Linked DNA regions of Homo sapiens. Each later gene encodes a partner of the first gene's protein in a complex. Each region holds a gene or a part of one and is shown in the gene's direction. Other genes may lie near its edges.

The links.
Region 2: DRC9 (region 1) and DRC10 share a complex: the UniProt entries of both Homo sapiens proteins name them as parts of the nexin-dynein regulatory complex.

What each region holds. Positions count from the first base shown.
Region 1 is NC_000003.12:197,903,351-197,918,811, reverse strand, and holds part of DRC9 (dynein regulatory complex protein 9), read left to right. Parts: intron 1-4,769; coding exon 4,770-4,931; coding exon of another isoform or gene 4,932-4,976; exon of another isoform or gene 4,977-5,090; intron 5,091-5,316; exon of another isoform or gene 5,317-5,412; intron 5,413-6,062; coding exon 6,063-6,137; intron 6,138-8,480; exon of another isoform or gene 8,481-10,240; intron 10,241-10,373; exon of another isoform or gene 10,374-13,128; intron 13,129-15,461. UniProt on the Homo sapiens protein: Component of the nexin-dynein regulatory complex (N-DRC), a key regulator of ciliary/flagellar motility which maintains the alignment and integrity of the distal axoneme and regulates microtubule sliding in motile axonemes.
Region 2 is NC_000012.12:113,206,499-113,221,959, reverse strand, and holds the start of DRC10 (dynein regulatory complex protein 10), read left to right. Parts: upstream 1-865; 5' UTR 866-963; intron 964-11,831; exon of another isoform or gene 11,832-11,959; intron 11,960-13,450; exon of another isoform or gene 13,451-13,700; 5' UTR 13,701-13,793; coding exon 13,794-14,522; intron 14,523-15,461. UniProt on the Homo sapiens protein: Component of the nexin-dynein regulatory complex (N-DRC), a key regulator of ciliary/flagellar motility which maintains the alignment and integrity of the distal axoneme and regulates microtubule sliding in motile axonemes.

The sequences.
Region 1 (15,461 bases):
AAAAACACTTCCATGATGCAGTACCTTCTGTTTACCATGGGCAGAAGCTAAAGACTTTTAACTCTGCATTTCTGATCTTCAGACTGTTACTCTGAAGTCTTAATATTCCATTTGAGAAAGAAAAATTACCAGAACATGCTCTTGAGTTTTCAAAAGTATATTTTTGTATGTACGGACACTATTCAATAAATCCCTGTCTAACACTATTTAGATTCTGTGAGAAACAAAACTACAGTTATCAATGTGGGCTGAGGTTTTCTGCAAAAGGCTTTATTTACTTGAGTGATATATAAGGTGGACCTTGAAGGAAATCTAAGGGATTATATAGGTAAAAGGATTCCAGTTGATGAAGAAGTAAAACCATCACATTTTTGCTTTAACTCTAGTCTTCCTAAAGATTCAAACCTATACCAGGCACAGTGGCTCATGCCTGTAATCCCAGCACATTGGGAGGCCGAGGCAGGTAGATTGTTTGAGACCAGGAGTTTGAGACCAGCCTGGGCAACATGGCAAAACCCCATCTCTACCAAAAAAAAAAAAAAAAAAAAAAAAAGCAAAAAATTAGCTGGGTGTGGTGGCGTGGTAGCACGTACATGTAGGCCCAGCTACTCGGGAGGTTGAGGTGGGAGGCGGAGATTGCAGTGAGCCAAGATCGCACCATTGCACTCCAGCCTGGGCAACAGAGAGATCTTGTCTCAAAAAAAAAAAAAAAAGATTCACTGACTGCCATACAATTTGGAAATAGAAGGGAGGGAAGAGGAAGAAGGAGGAGAAATGGGCTGGGCATGGTGGCTCATGCCTGTAATCCCAGCACTTTGGGAGGCTGAGGCGGGCAGATCCCCTGAGGTCAGGAGCTGGAGACCAGCCTGGCCAACATGGTGAAACCCCATCTCTACTAAAAAGAAATTAAAAAATTAGCCAGGCATGGTGGCACATGCCTGTAATCCCAGCTACTTGGGAGGCTGAGGCAGGAGAATCGCTTGAACCCGGGAGGCAGAGGTTGCAGTGAGCCAAGATCGCACCACTGCACTCCAGCCTGGGCAACACAGCGAGACTCTGTCTCAAAAAAAAAAAAGAGAAAAGAGAAATGGGGAAGACAGGGGAGAAGGGAAGTGCGTATAGAAAGAATGGAAGAAAAACAGTGAGCCAAAAGCAGACATCTCTTAAAATTCATTTCATCAACATTTATTGAGCATATAAGTTGTGCCAGGCACTCCAGCCTGGGCAGGATTTTACAGATGAGAAAATAGGCTTAGTGAGGTCCAGTAATTTGCCTGCAATCCTACAACTTGTAAGAGAATATGAAATATTAAGACATATTTTCAAAGGGCCTATAGCATATTCTGTGCCAGAGATGCTCCGTCTCTTAGGAATGATTCCGATCTAGTTGGAATAACTGTCATACAATTAGAATGATTCTGCAGAGTTATATCAAGAAGCTAGTAGACAAAATAACTTGAAGAATTCCGTTCTGATTCATCTTAGGGACCTTTTTGAGACAGGGTCTTGCTCTGTTGCCCAGGCTAAAGTGCAATGGCATGAGCATAGCTCACTGCAGCCTCGGCCTCCGGGGCTCAAGGGAGTCTACCACTTCAGCCTCCCTAGTAGCTGGGACTACAGGCGCATGCCACCAGGCCCAGCTAATTTTTAAATTTTTTTGTAGAGACAGGTTTTCACTGTGTTGCCCAGGCTGCTCTTGAACTCCTGGGTTCAAGCGAGCCTCCTGCCTTGGTTTCCCAAAGCATTGGAATTACAGGCGTGAGCCACCCCACCAGGTTGGGGCCTAATGATACTTTAAGTCAAGCTTGTCCAACCTGTAGCCCGCAGGCCACATGCGGCCCAGGATGGCTTTGACTGGGGCCCAACACAAATTCGTAAACTTTCTTAAAACATTATGAGAGATTTTTTTGTGTGATTTTTTTTTTTTTTTAGTTCATCATTGGTGTATTTTGTGTGTGGCCCAACACAATTCTTCTTCCAGTGCGGCCCAGGGAAGCCAAAAGATTGGACACCGCTGCCTATGCTTGCTTTCCTTAACGGAGGATTTGTCCAATTACCACTTTGTTTTTTCTTCCAATGGTTACTTAGAATTAATTCCCTAGGTACTTGGGAGGCTGGAGAGAGGGGATTCCTTGAGTCTAGGAGTTCAAGACTACAGTGAGCTATGCTGGTGACACTGCACTACAGCCTGGGGGACACGGTGGACCCTATCTCAAGAAAGAAAAGAGGCTGGCTGCAGCAGTGGCTCCTGCCTGTAATCCTAGCATGTTGGGAGGCTGAGGTGGGAGGATCATTTGAGCCCAGGGTTTCGAGGCCAGCCTGGGCAACACAGTGAGACTCTGTTTCTACAATAATAATAATAATTAGCTGAGTGTGATGTCATGCACCTGTAGTCCCAACTACTCTGTAGGCTGAGGCAGGAGGATTTCTTGAGCCTGGGAGGTCAAAGTTACAGTGAGCCGTGATCATGCCACTGCACTTCAGCCTGAGTGACAGAACAAGACCGTCTCAAAAACAACAACAACAACAACAACAACAAAGCCGGGCGCAGTGGCTCATGTCTGTGATCCCAGCACTTTGAGAGACCAAGGCAGGAGGATCCCTTGAAGCCAAGAGTTTGAGACCAGCCTGGGCAACAGAGTGAGACCCCCATCTCTAAAAATATTAAAAAGTTAGCCAGGCATGGTGACATGCACCTGTAGTACTAGCTACTTGGGAAGATGGCTTGAGCCCAGGAATTGGAGGTTATAGTGAGCTGTGATCGAGCCACTACACTCCAGCCTGAGTGACAGAGGGAGATCCTGTCTCTAAACAAAAAAATTTTTTTAATACAAAAGAACTAATTCTACCCTACTTACATGGTTAAGACGAAAGGCAATTGGAGGCCAGGCGTGGTGGCTCACGCCTGTAATCCCAGCACTTTGGGAGACCGAGGCAGGTGGATCACCTGAGGTCGGGAGATCAAGACCATCCTGACCAATGTAGAGAAACCCCATCTCTACTAAAAATACAAAATTAGCTGGGTGTGGTGGTGAGCACCTGTAATCCCAGCTACTCAGAAGGCTGAGGCAGGAGGATCACTTGAACCTGGGAGGTGGAGCTTGCAGTAAGCCAAGATCATGCCACTACACTCCAGCCTGGGCAACAAGAGCGAGCCTCCATCTCAAAAAAAATGTAAAAAGAGAAGAAAGGCGGTTGGTATCTAGAGGAGCAGGTCTCGGGTTGAAGCACTTTTGTTGCTAGTCGTGTGCTTGTTTGCTGTGCCGTCAGGTCCCCTCCCTGTGGACTTACTCACACACTGATTCCGCCCAAACAGTTCTTTTCAAACAAATGTTACCTCCCTGACTAAAAGCTTTCCAAGGATTCCCATGACAGTTGGAATAAAATCTGAATTTCTCAGTTGGGTCTCCGGGGTCCTGTGTGGTGCCCTTACCGACCTCCAACCTCATCCTGTCCTCCCCTCAACCCTCACTAGGCTAGAGCCTCCGGAGCTTTCTTTCAGTTCCTGGAATGTATCCAGGTCTTGATTGCTTCAGGATTTGGGCATATACTTATTCTTTTTTTTTTTTTTAGAGTTCCCTTAACCCTATTTTTCTTTTCTTTTTCTTTCCTTTTTTTCTTTTTCTTTTCTTTTTTTTTTTTTTTTTTGAGACAGAATCTCGCTCTATCACCCAGGCTGGACTGCAGTGGCATGATCTCAGCTCACTTCAACCTCCACCTCCCGGGTTCAAGTGATTCTTCTGCCTCAGCCTCCCGAGTAGCTGGGATTACAGGCGCCCGCCACCACTCCCAGCTATTTTTCGTATTTTTAGTAGAGACGGGGTTTCACCATGTTGGCCAGGCTGGTCTCAAACTGCTGACCTCAGCTGGTCGCCATGCCTCAGCCTCCCAAAGTGCTGGGATTACAGGCGTGAGCCCCCGTGCCTGGCCAAGCCTATTTTTCATGTGGTGGGCTTACCTGTCCTTCAGGTATCGAATGAGCCATCGCTTTCCCGAGAGAGTCCTTCTCAGACCTTCCAGAGTCTAATGTACTCCTCCCTTGTTATTTCCTCCCACAGCCTCTCGAGCCTTCCTTTTCTATCATTTTGCACAATTTTTGGAAGTTTACACATGTGTTTGTCTCTTTTTAACCACCTCTCTTCTATTAGACTGTAAGCTCTATGAGGGAAGGGAATATGTCTGTTTAGATCTCCACAATTTTCCTAGCTCAGTGCCTGGTGCTGAATAAATATTTTTCTTAATGACTATTGAGTCCTCACAATTGCCAAGCACTTGGTGACCTGCAAAAAGAAAGCGTTTTCACACGTGTTCTCAAGGAAACCTAATAATCACTCTCTGAGATACTTCAGGCAGGTTGGGTGTTTGTATGTTTGTGTGTTTGTTTTATAGAAAGTAAAAAGTTGGAGATTTGACTTGGCCAAGTTCACACAGCTGGAGGCCTGGGTGGGAAGTCAGTTCTTTTGATCATTTTGACCAGTGTTCTTCCTACCAAAATGAGAAAGCTGTGTGGGACATACGGAGTACAGCAATAATGTGCCTGGGAACTAATCTCACAGCCCTGATGCGCCCTGATTCTTAGAAATGCTGTGTTACTCACTTTCATCTATACACTTCATGATTGTTGGCTAAATTTCCCATTGTGTGACAGCGGAAAAATAGTTCCAGTTCCTTATTGATTTATACGCATAAAAGGGAACCGTAAGCCGCTGACTGAACTGAATGGAGGTAGAATGTATTTTCAATTTAGAAACCTGGTCTTTCCACTACAGAGTCAGAATGAGTATATTGCTAACCTCAAGGACCAACTGCAAGAGATGAAGGCAAAATCCAACTTGGAGAATCGCTACATGAAAACCAATACCGAGCTGCAGATTGCCCAGACCCAGAAAAAGTGTAACAGAACAGAGGAACTCTTGGTGGAAGAGATTGAGGTAATCCCTGGGACATTAGCCAAGAACCCAGGAGATGGCAATTGAGCTGTCACTCCTGATCCCCTCTCAGCTAACAAAGGAGGGAGACAAAGATTTCCCTCCATCTCTATCGGCAACAGCCCCTCCACTTGAGGTTGAAAATAAAAGCCTAAATGAGGATATGCGTGTTCGCAAGCAGAGATTCCAGTGGGCTGTAGCCTCCATCTCCCGCCTCATAATGACTTTGAAAATTGGCTGCACTTTCTCTCCTTGGTCACTTCTTATTTTGGCAAACCAATCACCATTTTTCTGACTAATTATAGGGAGAGGGCAAAACGAGGTGCTTAGTTATGGCAGGATTTTGCTGCTGTTTCTTTCATCTAACCAGTACCTTTCACTCCTCCAGTAAGAAATACAGCATCGAGAGCGCTGAACTTCGTTCAAACCTGAGTTTATAGGATGAGAAGTCACGGTGAAAAATGCCAGGAGGAAGAAAGAAGTGGTAGATCTTCTTTGAGGGGAATGCTAAATGGCACACACGCACGCACGCACACACGCACGCACGCACGCACGCACACACGCAAAGCCAGGCACTAGTCCCAGCTAATCGGAGGTGAGGCAGTGAGGCAGGAGGATCCTTGAGTTTGAAGCCAGCCTGGGCAACTTCAGACTTCAACTAGGGAGACTCCCTTCTCACAAAAAAGAAAAGAAAACAAGAAAGAGCAGCAGGCAGATGGGAAGAGGGAAGCAGGAACAAACGTCCTTGGGCCGTGGAATCTGTGTGTGGGAGGACTCCTCGCTCTGAGACTGACGTGGCTCAAGGCCACGTCAACACTCTTCCTGGCACTCCGGAATCCCCCTTTTTAAGCCCCACAGCCTTGTGCCCTTGGAGCGCCGTTTCTGTCCTTCAGTGGGCACCTCTGTTCAGCTCACGGGATTGTGCTCGTCTCGTTAGGGACACACGCAGTCCACACAGTGCCGCGCCACGTGGCTCTGCAGTGTTGGTGAACAGGAGTTGCAGGGAACTGAAAGCCCGGGATCCCAGCTGGTAAAGGGAGCCTCAGCTACCGACCGAGCTGCTGCTCTCATCTTGAGAACTTCTGATTCCCAGCCCTGCGGGGAAGACGTACTGGTATCTGATTGTTCTTACAGAAACTCAGGATGAAAACCGAAGAAGAGGCCCGGACTCATACAGAGATTGAAATGTTCCTTAGAAAGGAGCAGCAGGTGGGTCCCCACAGCTTTTCTATGCTTTGACTTTTTTTTTGTACTCTGCTTATACTGAGGAAACAAAAAGAATATTTTGAAGGAAAACCAACCATCATTCTTTCAGCCTAATGAACTTTAGCTCATGTTTTCTTTCAGGGTTATGCATCTGAATAGATATCTTATATAGCTGTAATTTGAGAGAGTGCAGGTAAAATTTTGTTTTCTGCTTTTATCATTGAGCTTACATAAGAAATTTTTCGATTTCTATATTGCTGTATACTCATAATTTTCAAATTATGACTTAATTTATGACTTAAAATTTATTAAGTCAAATTATGACCTACAAATTTATGGGCTGGGCACAGTGGCTCACGCCTGTCATCCCAGCACTTTGGGAGGCCGGGGAGGGTGGATCACCTGAGTTCAGGAGTTTGGGACCAGCCTGACCAATATGGTGAAACCCTGTTTCTATTAAAAAATACAAAAATTAGCCGGGCATGGTGGTGCGCCTGTAATCCCAGCTATTCAGGAGGCTGAGGTGGGAGAATTGCTTGAACCTGGGAGGCAGAGGATGCAGTGAGCTGAGATCACGCCACCGTACTCCAGCCTAGGCAACAGAGCGAGACCCCGTCTCAAAAACAAAAACCAAAAAAAGACATAATTTTTAAATTAATTATTTTTAAATTATGACTATATTTAAAAATTTTTCCCAATAGTATAGTGGCCAATAAATAAAAAAGAAAAATAAATAAAGGCCGGACATGGTGGCTCACGCCTGTAATCCCAGCACTTTGGGAGGCAGAGGCCAGCGGATCACCTGAGGTCAGGAGTTCGAGACCAGCCTGGCCAACATGGAGAAACCCCGTCTCTACTAAAAATACAAAAATTAGCCAGGCATGGTGGCGGGCGCCTGTAATCCCAGCTACTCAGAAGGCTGAGGCAATAGAATCGCTTGAACCCAGGAGGCAGAGGTTACAGTGAGCCGAGATCATGCCACTCACTCCAGCCTGGGCAACAGAGCAAGAATCTGTCTCAAAAAAAAAAAAATTTACTAATCTTTTACACTATAAAAATAACATTCCCAGTTGAGTGAAGATTTTTAAAATTACTCATTGCTTTTCATTTTTTATGTTATTACAGTTTCTTTATAAAATAATTGAAAATTGTGTTTAACGTTCCATTGAATGGTTGTGCCACAGTTTATTTGTTACACTTTTTTTTTATATTTAGGTTGTTTCTAAAGTTTGTTATTATAAATAATGCACTCATTAAAGCTTTGCCCAAAGAACTGTTTTTCTTCATGGCAACTATTTACTAAAAGCCAATCTCAGTCATGAGATTTTTGTTTCAGAGACTAGTATTTTGTGACTTTTAATAAACATTGCTAATACTCTCGAATCTGTGCTGCCGTTAGCAGTGTTGCAGGCAGTAATTTCAAGGTCTCTTCAATATTAGTAGCCATTTTCAATATTTTTCAAAGTCTGCTAATTTAATGAGTTGTTTTATTTTTTATTTTTGCTTATTAACAGGTGAACATAACATTTTTCCACATGTTTACTCAATTTATTTCTTCTTGTGTGAAATATATATGACACGGTGGTTTTAAGAGCATTTTCAATACTAATAACCAAGCTGGGTCTATAATATATCTAAGGTTAGAATTATGTCTAAGTCTACCTGGAGTCTTTCTTTCTTTTTTTTTTTTTTTTTGTTTTGTTTTTGAGATGCAGTCTTGCTTTACTGCCCAGGCTGGAGTGCAGTGGCGTGATCTTGGCTCACTGCAACCTCGGCCTCCTGGGCTCAAGCGATTCGCCTGCCTCAGCCTCCTGAGTAGCTGGGATTACAGGCGCACGTCCAGCTAATTTTTGTATTTTTAGTAGAGATGGGGTTTCACTGTGTTGACCAGGCTGGTCTAGAACTCCTGACCTCAGGTAATCCACCTGCCTCGGCCTCCCAAAGTGCTGGGATTACAGGCGTGAGCCACCGTGCCCAGCCCCAGCTGGAGTCTTTCAAAATAACCCTATTGGATGAATAAAGAGAAAATTTTCCAGCTTAGTTATAATACAGCTTGCCTTTGGAAAAAGCTAATGAGTTTTCAGTCAAGGATTCCAAATGTGTGGTTAAAGAGGAGAATTTGTAGATGCTCTCTTGCAGGTCTTTACTGAAAAAAATACCTGGTAGGCTATTAGAATTAGGGTTCTGTAGCCCTGCACTTTAAGAATTATGTATCATGTTACCTGTTTCAAGTGTGAGATACCTGGCAGGTGTTGGATATTTATCAGTGAGTTGGTAGATAAATGGATCACGAAGGGATGACGCCAGAGTTTCCCAGATCTTCAGCCCAATAACACAAGCAATACATAAGTATATATTTTTTTATTTTTTATTTTTTAGGGACAGGGTCTCTCTCTGTTTCCCAGGCTTCAGTGCAGTGGTGCCACCATAGCTCACTGCAGCCTCAAACTCCTGGGCCCAAGTGATCCTCCCACCTCAGCCTCCTGAGTAGCTGGGACTACAGGTGTGCACCACCACGTCCAGCTACAATTTCAGACAGAAATACATAGGTTAAAGAAAGTGAAAGCCCTCTTAAATTACTCCCCTTTCTGAAGGGAAGTTTCTTCCACATGTATTTCTTTTCATATACATACTTATACCTAAAAACATACCTATTCTCAGTGGTGGTTTTTTGTTTTGTTTTGTTTTTGAGAGGAGTCTTGCTCTGTTGCCCAGGCTGGAGTGCAATGGCGCGATCTCGGCTCACTGCAACCTCTGCCTCCAGGTTCAAGTGATTCTCCTGCCAGCCTCCCGAGTAGCTGGGATTACATGCACCTGCCACCACACCTGGCTAATTTTTGTATTTTTGGTAGAGATGGGGTTTCACCATGTTGGTCAGGCTGGTCTTGAACTCCTGCCCTCAAGTGATCTGCTGGCCTCAGCCTCCCAAAGTGCTGGGATTACAGGCATGAGCCACTGCACCCGGCCTAGTATTTGTTTCTTAAGTAAATTGGATCATGCTATATATAGTGTTCCAGAGCCTGTTGTTTTCTTCTTACATTTACTTTGTTTTTAATGTTTTCTGTAGCAGTACAGCTGATTGATAGAATATATCTCACACTCAGAATATACTGAAATTTAGTGAACCATTCTGTCAGTAGATTTAGGTTGTTTCCAGGTTTTTCTGTGATAACATTGCGAAACCTTCTTGGTTCTGTCTCTAAGTGTATGGTATGTGGAAAGGTATTTCTTTTGTGTATTGCTGTGGATTTGTTAAACCCTCTAATGGTTTTTCAGTGGATTCATTTGGATTTCCTAGGTGGAAAATCTTACTGCATGCAAATAACAATTTTATATTATCCTTTTTATTATTTATATGTCTGTTTTCATTTCATGGCTTGTTGTCTAGCTAGAAAGTCCAGTGTACTTGTTGGTTGTAGTAGTGACAATGGGGAATCCTTTTTCTATTATTGGTTGTTAATACAACACCACTGTTCTGGTGTTTTAGTCAGGATTACACATGAGTTTGTCATAGTCATGCCAAGTTACTGATATGCAAGTTAGAGCACTCACAGGGAAAGAACAGGACCCTGAAACTTGGAATGAGAACACCTGCTCAGATTCGGATGAAACTGGCAAATCACTTTAAAGCTCCCTTGGCAGCGGAAGTACCCTGCCCTCCTGTGTCTGAGGACACCGCACTTCCTTTGCCTGAAGATCCTGTGATAACTTCATCTGGGAGGATGCCTTGGAAAGGGTTGCTCGCTCTTCAGACCTGGTACAGTCACCCCTGTGATAACTTCATCTGGGAGGGTGCCTTGGAAAGGGTTGCTTGCTCTTCAGACCTGGTACAGTCACCCCTGTGATAACTTCATCTGGGAGGATGCCTGGGAAAGGGGTCACTCTTCAGACCTGGTACAGTCACCACCCCTGTGATGACTTCATCTGGGAGGATGCCTGGGAAAGGGTTGCTCGCTCTTCAGACCTGGTACAGTCACCACCCCTGTGATAACTTCATCTGGGAGGGTGCCTTGGAAAGGGTTGCTCTTCAGACCTGGTACAGTCACCACCCCTGTGATAACTTCATCTGGGAGGGTGCCTTGGAAAGGGTTGCTTGCTCTTCAGACCTGGTACAGTCACCCCTGTGATAACTTCATCTGGGAGGATGCCTGGGAAAGGGGTCACTCTTCAGACGTGGTACAGTCACCCCTGTGATAACTTCATCTGGGAGGGTGCCTTGGAAAGGGTTGCTCTTCAGACCTGGTACAGTCACCCCTGTGATAACTTCATCTGGGAGGATGCCTGGGAAAGGGGTCACTCTTCAGACGTGGTACAGTCACCCCTGTGATAACTTCATCTGGGAGGATGCCTTGGAAAGGGTTGCTCTTCAGACCTGGTACAGTCACCCCTGTGATAACTTCATCTGGGAGGATGCCTGGGAAAGGGGTCACTCTTCAGACCTGGTACATTCACCCCTGTGATAACTTCATCTGGGAGGGTGCCTTGGAAAGGGATCGCTCTTCAGACCTGGTACAGTCACCCCTGTGATAACTTCATCTGGGAGGATGCCTTGGAAAGGGCTCACTGTTCAGACCTGGTACAGTCACCCCTGTGATAACTTCATCTGGGAGGATGCCTTGGAAAGGGTTGCTCGCTCTTCACACCTGGTACAGTCACCACCCCTGTGATAACTTCATCTGGGAGGATGCCTGGGAAAGGGTTGCTCTTCAGACCTGGTACAGTCACCCCTGTGATAACTTCATCTGGGAGGATGCCTGGGAAAGGGGTCACTCTTCAGACGTGGTACAGTCACCCCTGTGATAACTTCATCTGGGAGGGTGCCTTGGAAAGGGTTGCTCTTCAGACCTGGTACAGTCACCCCTGTGATAACTTCATCTGGGAGGATGCCTTGGAAAGGGTTGCTCTTCAGACCTGGTACAGTCACCCCTGTGATAACTTCATCTGGGAGGATGCCTTGGAAACGGCTCACTCTTCAGACCTGGTACAGTCACCCCTGTTGTCACTGGATCCATAACTAGGGTCAAATCTTAGCATGTTACAGTGGGACATAAAACTCAGATAACTAACTCAGAAGGAAATCACTTACACACCAAAAGAATGGTAAGATTTTGCTAATAAATATTGGAAGAAACCTGGGAAACATGTCGAGTTGATTCTAAGAGTGTTAGATCCAACAGGGTAGGCTATCACACTCCATTTGTTTAATTCATTGATATAGATGCACTTACCAGAGAGTCTGGATTTCATGGTTTAGCTTGAGCAGCAGGAGGTGACTCAACATTTGCCTACATTTGATGAGGTGGAGATGTCAGAGCTTCCCTGCTATGATTTGGGGGAGAGAATCCAAAGATGTAGGGAGACAGGAATGTCACAGTGGATTTATCATGTGTGACTTACACGTCTACCACCAAGCACCCATTCCTAACCATGAGAAGGCCCAGAAGACACTTCTTTACTAAGACATTGAGAAATAGAATAGTGAGGGGAGCATCTGCCTCTCTAAAAGCTCTGTGCTTGCTTTCCTACATAGGCAGGTGTGACCCTAAGGATGTTGTCATTGAGATGAGCTTCCTGGTATCAGTGGGGTGATGGGATCCTGAAGTGCCTCCGGATAATTGGGAGCACTTAATTGTCAGAGATAAGGTGGGCACATTTACCACGAAGGGCGGCAGAGATGTAATCAGAATGCCTTTGGCCACTGGGATTCTTGGCAATGGCTAATGAATGATGGTATCTCTAGGAACAAAATTGTTGGGCTGCCTACTCAAGTATAACAGAAAAAAATTCTGGGTCTGGTAGCCAGAAACCTGATTTGAATCACCACAGCAGAGAGTCACGGCCTCTCCCCTAGCTCTTAGGACTGAGTCAGTTCACAGCCCCAGGGCCCCTTTATGAACTGGGGTGTGAGGGTGTGGGGGGATTTCCCCCAAAGAATGAACTCTGCAGCCCTGCTGCAAGTACCTACTGTAAGTCTCCCTCTAGGCCCTACTCAGAAGACCTGTGCTATTTACAGAGTGACTGTGCACTGGGGAAAGCAAACTACCCAGGCCTTCTGAGATGACTGAAGCATTGGCTCTGAATTGATGTTCATGCACGGGGACCCAAAGTGACAGCGTGGCCACTAGTCAAAATGGGAGATTAATGGTGGTTAGGTGACAGATACCTTACTAAAAGTTTTTTTTGTTGTTTTGTTTTGTTTTCCTAATCTGGATGCGTACTCAATTAGGGAAAAAAAAAAAAGAAAAACAGTTTTTTTGTCCATTGAGTTATTTTTTCTCCTTTAATATGTTAATAAAGTAGAATACATTGAGAGAGTTGCTGATTTGAGTCATCTTTAAATTCCTGGGATAAACCCTACTAGGTCATAACGTGTTTGGCCAGCAGGAATCCTCCTGCGCGGTCTCAGTAAAACGTGTGGGTGGACAAGTGCGGCCGGGTGTCCCACCCACATACCGCTGGCAGCCGCACTCTGGTGACCGGACAGTGAGACGCCCTCCTGTCGTGTGCCTCCAGCGCCCTCTACTGACACAGCTTAGCATTTTGTCAGCTGGCAAGAAAAACGTTCACAGCAAGCATCCACTTTCACAAAGCAAAGAGGTGGATTTGGAGCTGACAGGCAGTAAATTGGTAACTGCCACAAATGAGTTTTTTTTTTTTTAATCATCAACTGTGAGATTTACTCTGTAGGTTTCTGGTAGACAAGCTTTATCAACTTCAGGAAGTATCTTTTTTTCTTGTTAAAAGTTTTTCTTCTCATCAGGATGAGTACTCAATTTTGAGATGGATTTTTTTTTCATTAATTGAGATGATATTGTTTTCTCTTCTTTAATATGTTAATAAAGGGAAATACATTAATAGACTTGCTGATGTTGAGTCATCTTCAAATTCTTGGGATAAACCTTACTCGATCATAATGTGTTATTCCTTTTTTTTTTCTTCTGAGATTGGAATTTTGTTCTTGTTGCCCAGTGGCACGATCTCAGCTCACCGCAGCCTCCGCCTCCCGAGTTCAAGTGATTCTCCTGCCTCAGCCTCCCGAGTAGCTGGGATTACAGGCGCCTGCCACCATGCCTGGGTAATTTTGTATTTTTTTTAGTGGAGACAGGGTTTCTTATGTTGGTCAGGCTGGTCTCAAACTCCTGACCTCAGGTGATCCACCCGCCTCAGCCTCCCGAAGTGCTGAGATTACAGGTGTGAGCCATCACACCCGGCCTGTTATTCCTTTAATAGACTGCTGAAAAACTGATTTATAGACTTAAAATTGTTTCTATTTTAAACTCTTTTCTTTTTCTAATTTTTAATTTTTGTGGGCACATAGTAGGTGTATATACTTATGGAGTGCATGACGTACTTTGATACAGGCGTGTGACACGTGGGAGTCACATCAGGGGAATTGGGGTCTCCATCACCTTGAGCCTTTATCCTTTGTGCTACAAATGATCTCATTACACGCGTTTGGTTCTTTTTAAATTTACAATTAAATTATTGACTATGGTCGCCCTGTTTTGCTACCAAATGCTGGGTCTTATTCATTCTTTCTACTTTTTTGTACACATTAACCATCCCCACACCCTCCGCATCCCCCACTACCTTCCCAGCTTCTGGTAACCACCCTTCTACTCTCGACCTCCATGAGTTCAATTGTTTTAATTTTTAGCTCTCACAAAGAAGAACATGTGAAGTTTGTCTTCCCCTGCCTGGTTTATTTCACTTAACATAATGACCTCAGTTCCATCTATATTGTTGCAAATGACACAATCTCATTCTGGGCCGAATAGTACGCCATTGTTTATATGTCCCACCTTTTTAAATTTATTTATTTATTTACTCCTTTTTGAGAGGGAGTCTTGCTCTGTTGCCCACAATCTTGGCTCACTGCAATCTCTGCCTCCCAGGTTCAAGCAATTCTCCTGCCTCAGCCTCCCGAGTAGCTGGGACTACAGGTGTGCGCCACCACGCCCAGCTAATTTTTGTATTTTAGTAAAGATGGGGTTTCTCCATATTGGCCAGGCTGTTCTCAAACTTCTGACCTCAGGTGATCTGCCTCGGCCTCCCAAAGTGCTGGGATTACAGGCATGAGCCACCACGCCCGGCCCCACCTTTTCTTTATCCGTTCGTCTGTTGGTAGACACTTACATTGCTTCCAAATCTTGGCTATTGTGAACAGTGCTGCAATAAACATAGGAGTGCAGACATCTCTTCCACATCTAATTTCCTTTCTTTTGGGTATATACCTAGCAGTGGAATTGCTGGATCATATGGTAGCTCTATTTTTAGTTTTTTGAAGATCCTCCAAACTGTTCTCCATAGTGGTTGTGCTAATTTACATTTCCACCAACCAATACCGTACCAGGATTCCTTTTTCTCCACAGCCTTGCTAGCATTCATTATTGCCTGTCTTTTAGATACACACCATTTTAACTGGGGCGAGATGATGTCTCGTAGTTTTGATTTGCATTTCTCCGATGATCTGTGATGCTGAGCACCTTTCTATATGTCTGTTTGGTGTTTGTGTGTCTTCTTTTCAGAAATGCCTATTCAGATCTTTGGCCCTTTAAAAAAAAAAATATATATATATATATATATATATGTATGTATATATATATGTATGTATATATATATATGTATGTATATATATGTATGTATATATATATGTATGTATATATATATGTATGTATATATATATGTGTGTGTGTATGTATGTATGTATATGTTATACACATAGAGAGAGAGAGAGACAAGATCTCACTATTGTTGCCCAGGCGGGCCTTGAACTCCGAGCTCAAGCATTCCTCCAGCCTAGGCCTCCCAAAGTGCTGGGATTATAGGTGTGAGTGACTACACTCGGCCCTTTTGGCCCATTTTTCACATTATTAGATTTTTTCCTATAGACTTGTTTGAGCTCTTCATATATTCTGTTTATTAAACCCTTGTCATATAGGTAGTTTGCAAATATTTTCTCCAGTTCTTTGGGTTGTCTTTTCACTTTAATTGTTTTGTTTGCTATGCAGAAGCCTTTTATATTTTATATATTTATTTATTGAGACAGAGTCTTGCTCTCTCGCCCAAGCTGGAGTGTAGTGGCACAATCTTGGCTCACTGCGACCTCCGCCTCCTGGGTTCAAGAGATTCTCGTGCCTCAGCCTCCCAAGTAGCTGGGACTACAGGAGTGCACTGCCATGCCCGGCTAATTTTTGTATTTTTAGTAGAGGTGGGGTTTCACCTCTGGCCTTGAAGTCCTGGCCTCAAGTGATCCACCTGCCTCAGCCTCCCATAGTGCTGGGATTACAGGTGTGAGCCACCACACCTGGCCTGTGCAGAAGCTTT
Region 2 (15,461 bases), on another chromosome or scaffold:
GTGGGGTCACCTAAGGGCGCCAGGGAGAAGAGCGAGGGAGGGAGGAAGAAGGAGGCAGGACAGCTGGCTCCAGCTCCACGTGCTCCCAGCCCCTGGCTGGGAGCCCACGTGAGGGTCGCCCTAAGAAGTCGGGGGCGAGGAGAGAGGGTGCAAAGCCCCGGCCCGGGCTGGACGGAGAGAAGCGCGGTGGAGACTTCCCTGCGCCCCCTCTGGGCCCGTACGGCCCACCTCCCACACCAGAGTGCTGCGCCGCAACCCCTTACTCCGCGTCCTCTGACCCCTGATCCCTGCCCTCTCCCTCGGGCCAAGCCGTCGCATCCCTCGGATTCTTACACGCGCCGCCCCAGCAACCCGGACCGCGCGCCGGGGTCCGCACCGCGCAGCCTAGCCCGCCGGCGCCGCCGCCAAAACCCCGAGCCCGAAGCTGTTGCAGCCGCCGCAGCCGCCGAAGCCGCCGCCACTTCAGCCACTGCCACCAGGGCAGCTGCGCCAGCTCTCCTATCCACCGCCTACCGTCCTCTCAACCCCGCTGGCCCCGCCCCATTTCCCCTTCACAGCGTCCTACTGGCTAACTGGGCTACCGTGATGAACTCTGATTGGCCAACTATCACGTCCTTCCGCAGGTCTCGCCCGCCGCCGATGCGGTACTCCCTGCCCGCCTCCTTAAGAAGGGGCGGGACGAAGAATCCACGCCCCTTACTCCTCCCTTGTTCCCCGCCTTACTCGTTGAGTCCAACCCAGAGGGAGTCCCAAGTCTTTCCATTGGTGAAAGGTCAAAATGGCGGTGCTTCTGATTGGTCAGACTTCAGGAGGTGGGGACAACTGAGCGGAACAATAAATTGAATGGTGAAAAGAAAGGTCAGTCAGACACCGAGTCTCGCCTTCTGAGATTGGCGGGTAACCTAGCAACGCAGGGACCGCGGCGGTAACTGTGGCTAGGGAAACCTGGAGCGGTCAGAGCAGGTGAGTAGCCAGTTGGGAAAGGGTCGCGGATCGGGGGAGATGTGGAATAGGGTTCAGCCCTCTGTCCTTTGGCTCCCTGAGGAATTAGAAGCCCCCGCTGCGATCTCGTCTCAGCTTCAGGACCCTGTCCCTCAGCTCCTGCCTTAGTCTGGACCTTTCGCTCCACAACCTGCAGGGAGCCGGCCTCCATTCTGCCCTTCTACCTGCCCACTTCATGGCTCCACTCCCTCATCCCTAAAACGAGGAGGACAACAGTCAAGCAGAGTCATATCGTAGTTAACTTATTTCAAGTCAAACATGGGAGCTGTGGGTGGGAGGGGAGTTTATAAGTCCCCTCCCATTTCACCCAACGGCCATACGTTCCTCGGTGAGCAGGCAATCTCACTTCAGTGTTTAAATTAGGTAGTTTTGTTTGTTTGTTTTGTTGTTGTTGTTGTTGTTTTTGCCGAGCATGGTGGCTCACGCCTGTAATCCCAGCACTTTGGGAGGCCGAGGCGGGCAGATCACTTGAGGTCAGGAGTTCTAGGCCAGCCTAGCCAGTATGGTGAAACCCCATCTCTACTGAAAATACAAAAATTAGCTGAGCATGGAGGCGCACCTGTAATCCCAACTACTCGGGAGGCTAAGGCACGAGAATCACTTGAACCCGGGAGACTTAGGTTGCAGTAAGCCAAGATAGCGCCATTGCACTCCAGCCCGGGCAACAGAGCAAGACTCTGTCTCAAATAAATAAATAAATTAGGTAATTTTTATTACACCACTTTTGCCTTTATCCTAACTTTGGAATTTAACTCCCATCTCCATCCTTAAGATGTGATCTCATTGTACCTACTGAAGACAGAGAGTTTCTTGTGATGATTAAATGAGGCTAAGGGCCGGGCGCGGTGGCTCAGCCTGTAATCCCAGCACTTTGGGAGGCCGAGGCCAGCAGATCACCTGGGCCAGCAGATCACCTGAGGCCAGGAGTTTGCGACTAGCCTGGCCAACATGGTGAAACCCTGTCTCTACTAAAAATACAAAAATTAGCCGGGCCTGGTGGCGTGTGCCTGTGATCCCAGCTACTCAGGAGGCTGAGCGGGAGAATTTCTTGAACCCGGGTGGTGGAGGTTGCAGCGAGCCGAGATCGTGCCACTGCACTCCAGTCTGGGTGATAGAGCGAGACTCCAGCTCAAAAAATAAATAAATAAATAAATAAATAAATAAGGCTGAGGTGGGAGAATTGCTTGATCGCAAGAGGCGGAGGTTGCGGTGAGCCATGATTGCACTACTGCACTCCAGCCTGGGCGACAGAGCGAAAAACCCTGTCTCAAAAAAATATATAAAAAAAAAACTTTGAGGTTCAAAAGATATTTTCATAAGAAAATGAAAAGATCAGCCACAGACACAGACATGGAGGAAATATTTGCAAATCATGTGTCATAAAAGAGTTGTATATAGAATATAAAAATAACTCTTATAACTCAATAAGAGGACAACTCAATTTTTTTAATGGGCAAAAGAGTTGAGTAGACATTTAAAAATCAAAAAGACAATACCAAGTATCATCATGTAGATAAATAAACAAACTGTAGCTTTCATATGTTGCCGGTAGGTACAGCAGAATACCAATTGGTACCACCAATCTGAAATATAGTTGGCAGTTTCTTAAAAAGTTAAACATAGGCCAGGCACAGTGGCTCGTGCCTGTAATCCCAGCACTGTAGGAGGCACAGGCAGGTGGATCACCTGAGGTCAGGAGTTCGAGACCAGCCTGGCCAACATAGCAAAACCCCGTCTCTACTAAAAATACAAAAATTAGCAGGGCATGCTGGCGGGTCCCTGTAATCCCAGCCATTTGGGAGGCTGAGGCAGGAGAATCACCTGAACCCAGGAGGCGGAGGTTGCAGTGAGCCGAGATCGTGCCACTGCACTCCAGTCTATGTGACAGAGTGAGACCCTGTCTCAAAAATAAATAAATAAAACAAAAAATAAACTTACACATAACCTAGCAATTCCACTCTTAGGAAGTTACCCCTCCCAAGTGAAAACATAAGTCCACACAAAGACTTAAATATAAATGTTCTTAGCAACATCACCCTTAACAGCCCAAAACTGGAAACAACCCAAATGTCATCAACAGGTGAATAAATAAATAACTCATGATATTTCCTTAGAATGGAATACTATTCAGCAATAAAATACTATTCAGGAATGAAATACTAATAATTGCTACAACCTGGATGAACCTCAAAAACATGTTAAGTTGAGGGTTTTTGGCCCAGTGGCTCACGCCTGTAATCCCAGCAATTTGGGAGGCCAAGGCAGGAGGATCCTAGTTTGAGCCTAGGAGTTTGAGCCTAGGAGCCTGGTAACAAAGTGAGACCCTATCTCTACAAAAAATACAAAAATTAGCCAGGCATGGTGGTATGCACCTGTAGTCCCAACTATTCAGAAGGCTGAGGTGGGAGGATCACCTGAGCCTGGGGAGGTCAAGGCTACAGTAATCCATGGTTGCACTGCTGCACTCTAGCCTGCGTGACAGAGTAAGACCCTGTCTATTAAAAAAAAAAGGCAGCCGGGCACGGTGGCTCACGCCTGTAAATCCCAGCACTTTGGGAGGCCAAGGCAGGCAGATCACCTGAGGTAGGGAATTTGAGACCAGCCTGACCAACATGGAGAAACCCCGTCTCTACTAAAAATACAAAAAAAAAAAATTAGCTGCGCGTGGTGGCGCATGCCTGTAATCCCAGCTACTTGGGAGGCTGAGGCAGGAGAATCGCTTGAACCCAGGAGGCAGAGGTTGCAGTGAGCCGAGATCACGCCATGGCACTCCAGCCTGGGAAACGAGAGCAAAACTCCATCTCAAAAAAAAAAAAAAAAGGTCAGGGTTTTTCAACCTCAGCTCTATTGATGTTTTGGGTGAGAAAATTCTTTGTTGTGGGGAACTATCCTGCCAATTGTAGGATATTTAGCAATATTACGAGCCTCTACCTACAAGATGCCAGTAGTAGCCTCTCTCAGTTGTGACAAGCAAATGCATCTCCCGATTATTGCCAAATGTCTTCTGGAGGGCAAAGTTGCCCCAGGTTGAAAACCACTGTGCTAAGCAAAAAGTCAGATGCAAACAATTACATACTGCATGATCCCATTTATATGAACTATCCAGGAAAGTTACATATGAGTGGAGGCCAGGGGCAGTGGCTCACGCTTGCAATTCCAGCACTTTGGGAGGCCAAGGAAGGTGGATTACTTGAGCCCGGGAGTTCAAGACCAGCCTGGGCAACATGCTGAAACCCTGTCTCTCCTAAAAACGTAAAAATTAGCCAAGCGTGGTAACACGCACCTGTAATCCCAGCTACTTGGGAGGCTGAGGCACGAGAATTGCTTGAACCAGGGGGGTGGAGGTTGCAGTGAGCCGAGATTACGCCACTGCACTCCAGCCTGGGCGACAGAGCGAGACTCAGTTTCAAAAACAAAACAACCACAACAAAAAATGTGAGTGGAAGCAGAGATTGTTTGCAGATTAGCTCATGGGAATTTGGGGGGAGTGATAGAAATGTTCTAAAACTGGATTGTAGTGATGTGGCAACTTCAGATACATTTACAAAAATAGTCACTGAGTTTTACACTTACAATGGGTGAATTTTATGGTAATGTAAATTATACCTCAATAGAGCTGTAAAAAAAAAAAAATTACACGTGTGATTAGTACTATGCAGGAAAGGTGAGAGAGTTTCCACAGGTTGTAAAGTGCTGTCTGTTCCAGTCTGAGGAGGGGTAGCCATTGAGCTAAGACCTAAAGAATGAGAAATTGTTAATCTAGGGAGAAATTATTCCTGGGGGGTTGGTTTCTGACAAAAGGAACATTATACATTAGTGCCTGAGAGCAGGACGGGTTTGAGATAGGCTGTTTTTTGTTTTGTTTTTTTGAGACAGAGCCTTTCTCTGTTGCCCAGGCTGGAGTGCAGTGGTGCAATCTCAGCTCACTGCAACCTACGCCTCTTGGGTTCAAGCGATTCTCCTGCCTCAGCCTACCAGGTAGCTGGAATTACAGGTGCCCAACACCATGCGCTGCTAATTTCTGTATTTTTAGTAGAGACTGGGTTTCACCATGATAGCCAGGCTTGGTCTCGAACTCTTGACCTCAGGTGATCCACCCACCTCGGCCTCCCAAAGTGCTCCCAAAGTCCTGTAATCCCAAAGATTACAGGAGTGAGCCACCGCACCCAACCCTGTTTCGTTTAATTTTAACTCTAGTCCCAGTTGGCAAACTGATTTCACTGCCCAGTAAAGGGTTACAACCTTAAGATTTTATTTTTTAAGCAGTTTTAGATTCACAGCAAAATTGAGAGAAAGGTAGAGAGAGTTCCTACATACCCCCTATTCCCACATGCACAGCCTGCCCCACCGTCAACCTCCCCCACCAGAGTGGTGCATTTGTTACAGTTGATGAACCTACATTGACACATCAGCAGCAGCATCCAAATTCCATAGTTTACATAAGGGATAAGGGTTCACGCTTGGTGTTGTACATTCTGTGAATTTGGACAAATGTATAATGATGGTATCCATCATTGTAGTAAGGTACATAGTATTTTCACTGCCCTAAAAATCCTCCCTGTTCTGCCTATTCATCCCTCCCTTCCCCCAGCCCTTAGACAACACTGATCTTTTTACTATCTCCATAGTTTTGCCTTTGCCAGAATGTCATATAGTTGGAGTGATACCATATGCAGCTTCTTCAGATTGGCTTCTTTCACTTAGTGATATGCATTTAAGTTTCTTCCATGTCTTTTCGTGGCTTGACAGCTCATTTCTTTTTAACACTGAATAATCCTGTATTCCATTGTCGGGATGCCCCACTGTTTATCTACTCAGCTCCTGAAGGACATCTTGGTTGCTTCCAAATTTTGGCAGTTGTGAATGAAGCTGCTATAAATATCCATAAGCTTTTTGTGTGTGCAGGTTTTTGTGTGCACATGAGTTTTCAACTCCTTTGGGTAAACACCAAGGAGTGCAATTACTGGATCGTACAGTAAGAGCAGGTTTAAATTTGTAAGAAAACAACTGTCTTCCCAAGTGGCCGCACCATGTTGCATTCCCACCAGCAATGACAGAGTTTCTGCTTCACATCCTCACCAGCATTTGGAGTTGTCGGTGTTCTAGATTTTGTCCATTCTAATAGGTGTGTAGTAGTTAAATATTTTTTTCAAGTTGGAGAAGTTGATTATAGAATAATCTAAATTCACTACTAGGAAATTCTTCCTTCTGTCTGAAACTGCCAAAGTGATGCTGTCTACACTTAGATATAACCAGAAATAAGCATTTCTAAAGTGACACTGTAACCAAAAGAGGAATTAAAATTCCTGATGAACTGATTGATAAGGAGGGGAGACTGGACAATGGGGAGTGATTTAAGGGAACTTGGTCTTCTTCGGTCACTAACAGGAGAACATGAATAATGCAGAAACCAGCAAAATTAAAAACAAAATAGTAAAAAGGAGTAAAAACTGCTTCTGTTTTGACTTTTTATAAAGCCTTTGATACAAAAACATATACCATATTATTTTGTGGAAAAGCACATCTATTTTAAGAAACATTAAAGTGTTGATATTAACATAATTTTTGAAGTAGTACTAAAAGTCATAAAAGCGTAACACTTTTGAGCAAGGATTTCATTTCATTCCCTCAACAGTGCTGTGTCCCATTTCACAGGTAGAACGTCAAGGCTTAGAGAGGTTAATCGACTTACCCAAAGCCACACAGCCAGGAAGTGGTGAGACACTGGAATTGCATTCCAAATGTGTTTTTCGTTTCCACTTCAGTAATGAGGAAATGAAAGCCCAGAAGATCAAGTGGACTTGCCCAAGGCTATATAGCTTGTGGTCAGTGGAAAGTATTTCATCATAACCAGCAACATAGAAATCTGTCCCGGGGGGCATGTTCCCTCCCAATCTGAGTCACTATCCCATGTCCTCTGTCTCCAAAGCACCAGATAATCCTGGAGCCTGCAGCCACCCAGCCAGCATTACAAACAGGGTCCCAACTGTCAATACCTCCAGCATTCATTGCTGCAGCCCTAGCCTGGGAATCTTTTACAGACCAGTTGTAAACCATAAAACACAGGTTCTCAAAAAGAACAAGAGAGGAGGATTGGGTAATAGTTCAAAATTAGTCACAGAAAGAAAAAAAAAACCACTCAACTATGAAAAAGTAAAAAATTCATTACATTTAAAACTTTTGTTTAAAAAATTCCAAGCCCTGAGTAAAGGGATGCAAAAGAATTCATAGGCCAATTGTTGGCCTACAGTTCTATCATGAAAATATGACTCTCTTTTCTGGCTCCAATTCAGGACATATATATTTTGCAAAACAACATTATCCTATTATGCCAGCATCTCCCAGTGAGGAGACAAGCCTGTTGGTAAATCTGGGTTTGCCATCTCATTTATTCAACAGTGATTTCTTTTTCTTTTCTCTTTTTTTCTCTTTTTTTTTTTTTTTTTTTTTGAGACGGAGTCTCACGCTGTCACCCAGGCTGGAGTGTGCAGTGGTGCGATCTCAGCTCACTGCAACTTCCATTTCCCTGGTTCAAGTGATTCTCCTGCCTCAGCCTCCCAAGTAGTTGGGATTACAGGCATGTTTCACCACACCCGGCTAATTTTTGTATTTTTAGTAGAGATGTTTCGCCATATTGCCCAGGCTGGTCTCAAACTCCTGACCTCAGGTGATCCACCTGCCTCGGCCTCCCACAGTGCTGGAATTACAGGTGTGAGCCACTGAGCCCAACCGCAACAGTGATTTCTTTATTGAGCACCTACTGTATAGTAGTTGGTTGGGATAGCAGGTTTCATCATGAATCTGTTGCTTCTTTCTAGCCCCTCACTTTCCCCCTCCCTAGACTTGAAAGCCTCAGATAAAACATACAGAGTTCGGAAGAAAGCTAGAGGTTTGGAGGGTAGTGAGATCTTTCTGAGGCTAAAAAGAAAATTCCTCTTGAGCCCAGGAGTTCAAGACCAGCCTGGGCAACATAGCAAGACCTTGGTTTTTTTGTTTTTTGTTTTTGTTTTTTTTGAGACAGAGTCTCACTGTGTCACCCAGGCTGGAGTGCAGTGCTGCAATCTCGGCTCACTGCAACCTCCACCTCCCAGGTTCAAGCAATTCTCCCGCCTCAGCCTCCACAGGTGCCCACCACCATGCCCAGCTAATTTTTGTATTTTTAGTAGGGACAGGGTTTCACCATGTTGGCCAGGTTGGTCTCAAACTCCTGACCTCAAGTGATCAACCTGCCTTAGCCTCCCAAAGTGGTGGCATTACAGGCGTGGGCCACTGCGCCCGGCCAGAAGTCAATCTTAAAATCAAGAGACTGGACAGAATAGTGCTGATGGGGTGCAGGCCCTGTCACTTCCTAGCTGTAAACTAACTAGAATCATCTAACCTCTCTCTCTGTCTCCCTTTCTTCATCTGTGAAATAGAGGTAATAATAGCACCTACCTCATAGGGTTGTTGCAAGGATTAAAGGAATTAATTCGTATATAGCATTCAGAACAGTGTCTGCTACACAGTAAGTTCTCAAGAACTTACTTAGCTAATGTTAAAATGGTATTCCTTAAAATGAGATCCGGATGAGGATGGAAAAACTACCTATCAGGTACTATGCTTATTACCTGGGTGATGAAATAATCTGTACACCAAACCCCCATGACATGAAATTTACCTATATAACAAACCTGCACATGTAACCCGAACCTAAATTAAGAGTGAATTTAAAAAGAGAGAGAGAAATCCATTTCCCACACTCCAGTTGTTTTGGTTTTTTTTTTTTTTTTTTTTTTTTTTTTAGCACCCTCTGACTTTTCCACTTGCCAGTTTGGATTTGTAGGGTAGTTGTTAAGTGTTGGGTTTTTTCCTTCTCTCCAGGGGGAAAAAATATATAATTTAGTTCAAATCTTTTTTTTCCTCAAAATATTCTAAGAGCAAAATTAATAAAATATCCAACAAGCCTGTTTGAATGAAGACGAGGTATAATTTGCATGATAAAGATATATTTCCATTTATAAAGTTCATCAGCAGAATTAATGACAAATAAAGGGAATATCCAATTAAAGTTTCCCATCCATTAACAATTTGCTTCACTCTCAGGGCAGGAATTTTAAACGGAGATGCTTAAGTTGGAAATGATTTAAATATTAAGGTTGGTGGCATTAAAAAGGACATGAAATGATCATATTAGGATTCAAGGAAAAGAGATTCTCCAGTCATTTTTGTCGTCAGAGTCAGATGCATTTCCCCTCAATCCTAGTTCCACGGGCTTTATCTTGTTCACCCAAATGAGCTGTCAAGAAATGATGGGTGTCATCATAATCAAAGAAAACAAGTTTGCCCTTTAAAGCAAAAGAGGTAATTTGGCTGAAAGCAAATTGGAAACATTTCATGTAACGTTGCGTTTCCAGCCGCACTCTCTGAAGAATTCAGGCATTTTGATTTATGCCTGAGAGCTTTGGGGTACAATGGAGAGGACTGCATTCATTAACTACCTTGTTCACATTCATCCTGTAGCCATGGGCAAAGATCCTTCATCCTCAGAGAGCCTGAGAAATCTCCATGGCTGTCCCTAAAACTTTTTTTTCACTTACAAGATAGGATCTAGGCTGGGCATGGTGGCTCACGCCTGTAATCCCACCACTTTGGGAGGCCAAGGTGGGCAGATCACCTGAGGTCAGGAGTTTGAGACCAGACTGGCCAACATGATGAAACCCTGTCTCTATTAAAAATACAAAATTAGGCTAGCGTGGTGGTGCACGCCTGTAATCCCAGCTACTTGGGAGGCTGAGACAGGAGACTGCTTGTACCTGGGAGGCAGAGGTTGCAGTGAGCCCAAATCACACCATTGCACTCCAGCCTGGGTGACAACAGCAAAACTCCAGCTTAAAAAAAAAAAAAAAAAAGAGGAGAGATAGGATCTCGCTCTGTCACCCAGGCTGGAGTGCAGTGGTGCGATCATGGCTCACTGTAGCCTCAACCTCCCTGGCTCAAGCAATCCTCCTGCCTCAGCTCCCCAAATAGCGGGGACTACAGGCACCTGCCACCATGACAGGCTAATTTTTTTTTTAACTTTTTGTAGAGGTCTCATTTTGTTGCCCATGCTGATCTTGAACTCCTGGGCTCAAGGAATCTTCCCTCCTTGGCCTCCCAAAGTGCTTGGATTGCAGCTGTGAGCCACCATGCCCAGCCTCCTAAAACTTTGTCTTCAGGAAAAGCCTCAAAGGATCTCATGAGATTCATTAGGGAGCAGGAAGTGTGTGTGAATCAAAGTGATTGAAGATAATTCCCAATCCTCTGCTCCCAAAGGGGCTTCTGGTTTGTTTTTTGTTTTTTTGTTTTTTTAAGAGACAAGATCTCACTCTGTTGCTCAGGCTGGAATGCAGTGGCCTGATCATAGCTCACTGCATCCTCAAACTCCTGGGCTCAACAAATCCTCCTGCCTCAGCCTCCCAAAGTGTTGGGATTACGGGCGTGAACCATGATACCTGGCCTGATATTGAATACATTCTGCCTTGCCAAGGAACTAAACATCCTTAGCACCTGATCTGGCCTGCCTTTCTTTTTCGTTCTTAGTCACTTTGGGTGTTTCTTTGATTCCCTGCCATTCTCTTGGTGTGTTCTTTGGTTTGGTGAGTTGAAGTTATCTTTTGTGGCTTCAAGTGTCACTTCCTTCTCCTGGGCAACATAGCAAGACCCTATATCTACAAAAATAAAAATACAATAATTAGCTGGGAATGGTGGCACGTGCCTGTAGTATCAGCTACTCGGGAGCATGAGGCAGGAGGACTGTTTGAGCCCAGGAAGTCGAGGTTGCAGTGAGCCATGATCGTGCCACTGCACTCCCTGGATAATGGGAAGGCCAAGACACCATTGTCCACTGCAGTATGGCAGCTAGAGCTCAATGAGTTTAAAAGTGAGCTCATTGTCCTCCCCTCCAAATGTCCTCTCCTCTCCCAATTTCTGCCATAGTTTCTTAAGGGCCCCATCTTTCTCTACCAGTCACCCAAACTCAAAACTCTTTCACTCAAGTCCTAATGATTCTTTCTTCAAAACATTTCTCACATCTACAGACAATATGAAAATAAAAGTGGCACAGGTAACCTGTAAGTAGTAACTTACAGCTTTCATTGGTGCTTACTTCTTAGGAGAGGGGGAAAGACAGACAATAAACAAATAAACAGGTGCATATAGGGATGTCAGATGGTGATACTTAACCTGGAGAACGAACAGGATAAGGGGGAAGAGATGAAGAAGAATCAGGGTGAGGGATGGGGATGTTATGGGGGGTGTCCATCTGAGACATGGTGTTGGGGGGTGAGCAGACATCCTGGGCAGTAGGTGTTCTTTTTTTTTTTTTTTTCTTTTTTTCTTTTTTAAGAGATGGGGACTTGCTATGTTGCCTGGGCTGGTCTTGAACTCCTGGGCTCAAGCGATCCTCCCACTTCAACCTCCCAAAGTGCTAGGATTACAGGCGTGAGCCCCTGTGCTTGGCCAAGGCAGTAGGTGTTCGTTCAGCAATTGCATCAGAAATCATTAAAGTCCTGGACTTGGGATTTTCGTTTTCCTGGGTTAGTGCTATTAGTTATTTATTGAACATTTTTTACAGCGTGCAGGCTTCTCATTCATCCTGAGGACTCTTGTTTTACAGCTGAGGAAGCCCAAGCTCTGGAGGATTAAATGACCAGCCCAGAGACCCCCAGCAAGGATTTGAACCCAAGTGGGGCTGTGCAAAGCTAGTACTTTTAGCCATTGTACTATGAAAGCAATATAAATTACTGATCTCTGATTGCCCTATAGATTTTTCTGAAACAGTTATTTATTTGTCTATCTATCTTTTGAAACAGAGTCTCATTCTGTTGCCCAGGCCGGAGTACAGTGATGCAAACTTGGCTTACTGCAACCTCCGCCTCCTAGGTTCAAGAGATTCTCATGCCTCAGCCTCCTGAGTAACTGGGGTTAACCTGAGTAACAGGTGCGTACCACCATGCCTGGCATTCTCTCGTATTTTTATTAGAGACGGGGTTTCGCCATGTTGGCCAGGCTTGTCTTGAACTCCTGACCTCAGATGATCCACCTCCCTCGGCCTCCCACAGTGCTGTGATTACAGGTGTGAGCTACCATGCCTGGCCTGAAATAGTCTTTTAACTAAACTTTTTACTTTGTAATAATTGTAGATTTATAGAAAAGTTGCAAAGATAGTACAGAGAGTTCCCGTATGCCCTCCATTCTGCTCCCCCTAATGTTAACATCTTAGATAACCTTGATGTGTTTGTCAAAACCACAAAATTAGGCCCGGCACGGTGGCTCCTGTCTGTATTCCCAGCACTGGGAGGCTAAGGTGGGAGGATTGCTTGAGCCTAGGAGTTCAAGATCAGTCTGGGCAACATAGTGGAGCTCATCTCTATAAAAAGTTAAAAAATTAGCTAGGCATCGAGCACCTATAGTCCTAGCTACTTGAGAGGCTGAGACAGGAGGATCACTTGAGCCCAGTAGGTCGAGGCTGGAGTGAGCCATGGTCACACTATTGCACTCCAGCCAGGGTAACAGAGCGCCTACAAAATTAATGTTGGTACAATGCTATTAACTAAACTTTAGACTAGATTTGGATTTGGATTTGGATTTCTCCAGTTCCACTAATGTCCTTTTTCCACTCCAGAACCCAATCCAGAATACAACATTACATTTAGTGAAACAGTTTTTTAAATTGTATTTCAAAGTTATATTTCACCCACCAATTTTTAAAATCAGTACTTAAAAATGGCCAGGCGTGGTGGCTCAGGCCTGTAATCCCAGCACTTTGGGAGGCAAAGGCAGGTGGATTGAGAACAGCCTGGCAAACATGGCAAAACCCTGTCTCTACTAAAAATACAAAGATTAGCCAGGCGTGGTGGTGTGCACCTGTAGTCCCAGCTGCTCAGGAGGCTGAGGCAGGAGAATCACTTGAACCCAGGAGGCAGAGGTTGCAGTGAGCCGAGATCATGGCACTGCACTGCAGCCTGGGCGACAGAGCAAGACTCTGTCTCAAAACAAATAAACAAACAAACCAAAAAACTTTAAAATCAGTGAAAATGTGCCATTCCTAGTCCTGTTAGTCTTACACTGCATTCTGCCCTGTCCCTGTCCTGCTCAGACATAGGCTGAGGCCTGTGGTTCCGTCGCCCAGGCTGCTTGTCAGTTGGTTTCCTGCTGGTTTTGGCCAAGGGCAGTAGAAAGAAACCAGGGTATTTCTCCTCCCCCACCGCCACCCTTCTTTAATCTGCATTTCCGGCAATGTCTCTAGCTCCTCTGGGAACTGATGGCTGTGGTTCAAACTTCCCCTGGGTGACCCTGGGCCCCAGGCTCACCATCTCTTCATGTGGTGGCTTCCTGCCATTGACAATTGCGGGATGGCTTTGTCTTCCCCTGGTTGGCCTCTCAACTCTCCCATCACTGATGTAACCAGTCTCTGGTTTTAAATCCTTAGAATGCTGTCTGTATGCCTGGCTGGTCCCCGCCTGACACATGTGCCTGAGATGCCTCCACACTTGGTCTTCCTGCCCTTGTGGCCCTAACACCCTCACAAAGCTGAAAACTGCTTCCAGTGAAAGGTTCTGTGTAAAAGCGACAGAGGACCTAAGATGAACTCTTGATGTCAACAGTTGTGGTTTCTGCAGCCACACTAACCACACAGATGTCAGCACAGCTGCACTCACACCTACTTCTTCATTTTGCAGGATGGCCAGAGACAATAAAAGCACGAGACCCAAGTAGTCTACCGAAGTCTCCATCTCTGTGGACCTACAGAGGCACAGAGGGCTGCTCACAAGATGGCTTTAGACATTCTCGCCATGGCCCCTTTGTATCAGGCCCCTGCCATCAACAGAATAGGGCCAAAGACAGACCCATCTAAAAGGCCAGCTGATCCACTAAAACCCTTGGTTCTCTCTAGGACCAAACTCACCACCATTGAGGCCAAAAGGATCATGTCCATCCTGGATGAGGCGATCTACAAGGTGGAGCTGGTGACCTTGCTGTCGTATGTGGCATCCAACAGAGAGGATATGGAGGGGATGCTGGGGGAGGACGTCATGAGGGCAGTGAGAGAGCATGAGGATCTCTGCCAGGTCCTCCTTGAAAACGTCAGGTGCCTGAAAGAGAAAGAAAGGCAATTGCAGGAGCAGAAAGAGGCTGAGGAGGAAGGGTGGCTCAGAGACCGCCTCCTTTCCATAGAGCTGCAGAAATCCAGCCTCTCACCACTTATGCAGCAGATCAAAGACTCCACCAAGAACGTCCTTAGACTCTTGCTCAGCAACCCCCAGGCTGCTAGGCTCCTGCAGATGCAGACACAGGGTAGAAGTGCAGAAGCCCAGAATTTTATTGACAGCCTGATAGAGCTCCGTGGTTTCCTGTTTGAAAAACTACTCACTAGTCCCATGGAAGCGAGGGATAAGGCCCAGTTCTTACAGGATATCAGTAGACAGAATAGTAATAACCAACAAATCATTGATACTCTTGAAAAGGAATTGGCGGAGAGAATGAAGAACAGGAATGCAGAGGTATTGTTTCATAGTATTGCTGAAATTACTGAAGAAGCCACACAAATCTTTTGTTGGTTGGGTTTTTCCTCAATGATTGATTTTTTTTTTAAGATGGAGTCTCGCTCTGTTGTCCAGACTAGAGTGCAGTGGTGTAATCTCGACTCACTGCAACCTCTGCCTCCCAGGTTCAAGCGATTCTCCCACCACAGCCTCCCAAGTAGTTGGGATTACAGGCGTATGCCACCACGCCCGGCTAATTTTTGTATTTTTAGTAGAGACAGGTTTTCGCCATGTTGGCCAGGCTGGTCTAGAACTCCTGACCTCAAGTGATCCTCCTGCTTTGGCCTCCCAAAGTGCTGGCCACTGCGCCTGGCCAATTGATTGACTGATTTTTTTGAGACAGGGTCTCACTCTGTTGCCCAGGCTAGAGTGCAGTGGCATGATCACAGCACACTGCAGCCTCCATCTCTCAGGCTTAAGCAATCCTCCCATCTCACCCTCCCAAGTAGCTGAGACTACAGGTGTGTGTCACCATGCCTGGCTAATTTTTTGATTGTTTGTAAAGATGGGCTCTTGCTACGTTGCCCAGGTTGGTCTCGAACTTCTGGGTTCAAGAGATCCTTCCGCCTTGGCCTCCCAAAGTGCTGGGGTTACAGGCATGAGCCACTATGCCCGGCCTCCCCAGTGATTTTTTTTTTTTTAAGATGGAGTCTTGCTGTGTCACCCAGGCTAAAGTGCAGTGGCAACATCTTGATTCACTGCAACCTCCGCCTCCTGTGTTGGGAATGGGTGCTCGGTGTCGCCAAAATCAACACTGAGACAAAGGATCTCTCAGCAAGGCTAGTTTACTCTCTGCAGAAAGGGTGCTGCTTGCTAGCAGTCTTGCCACAAGAGCACACATGAACAAAAGAGACGGGGTCATTTATAACCTGACGCATCCACCCTACTGCTGTGTCC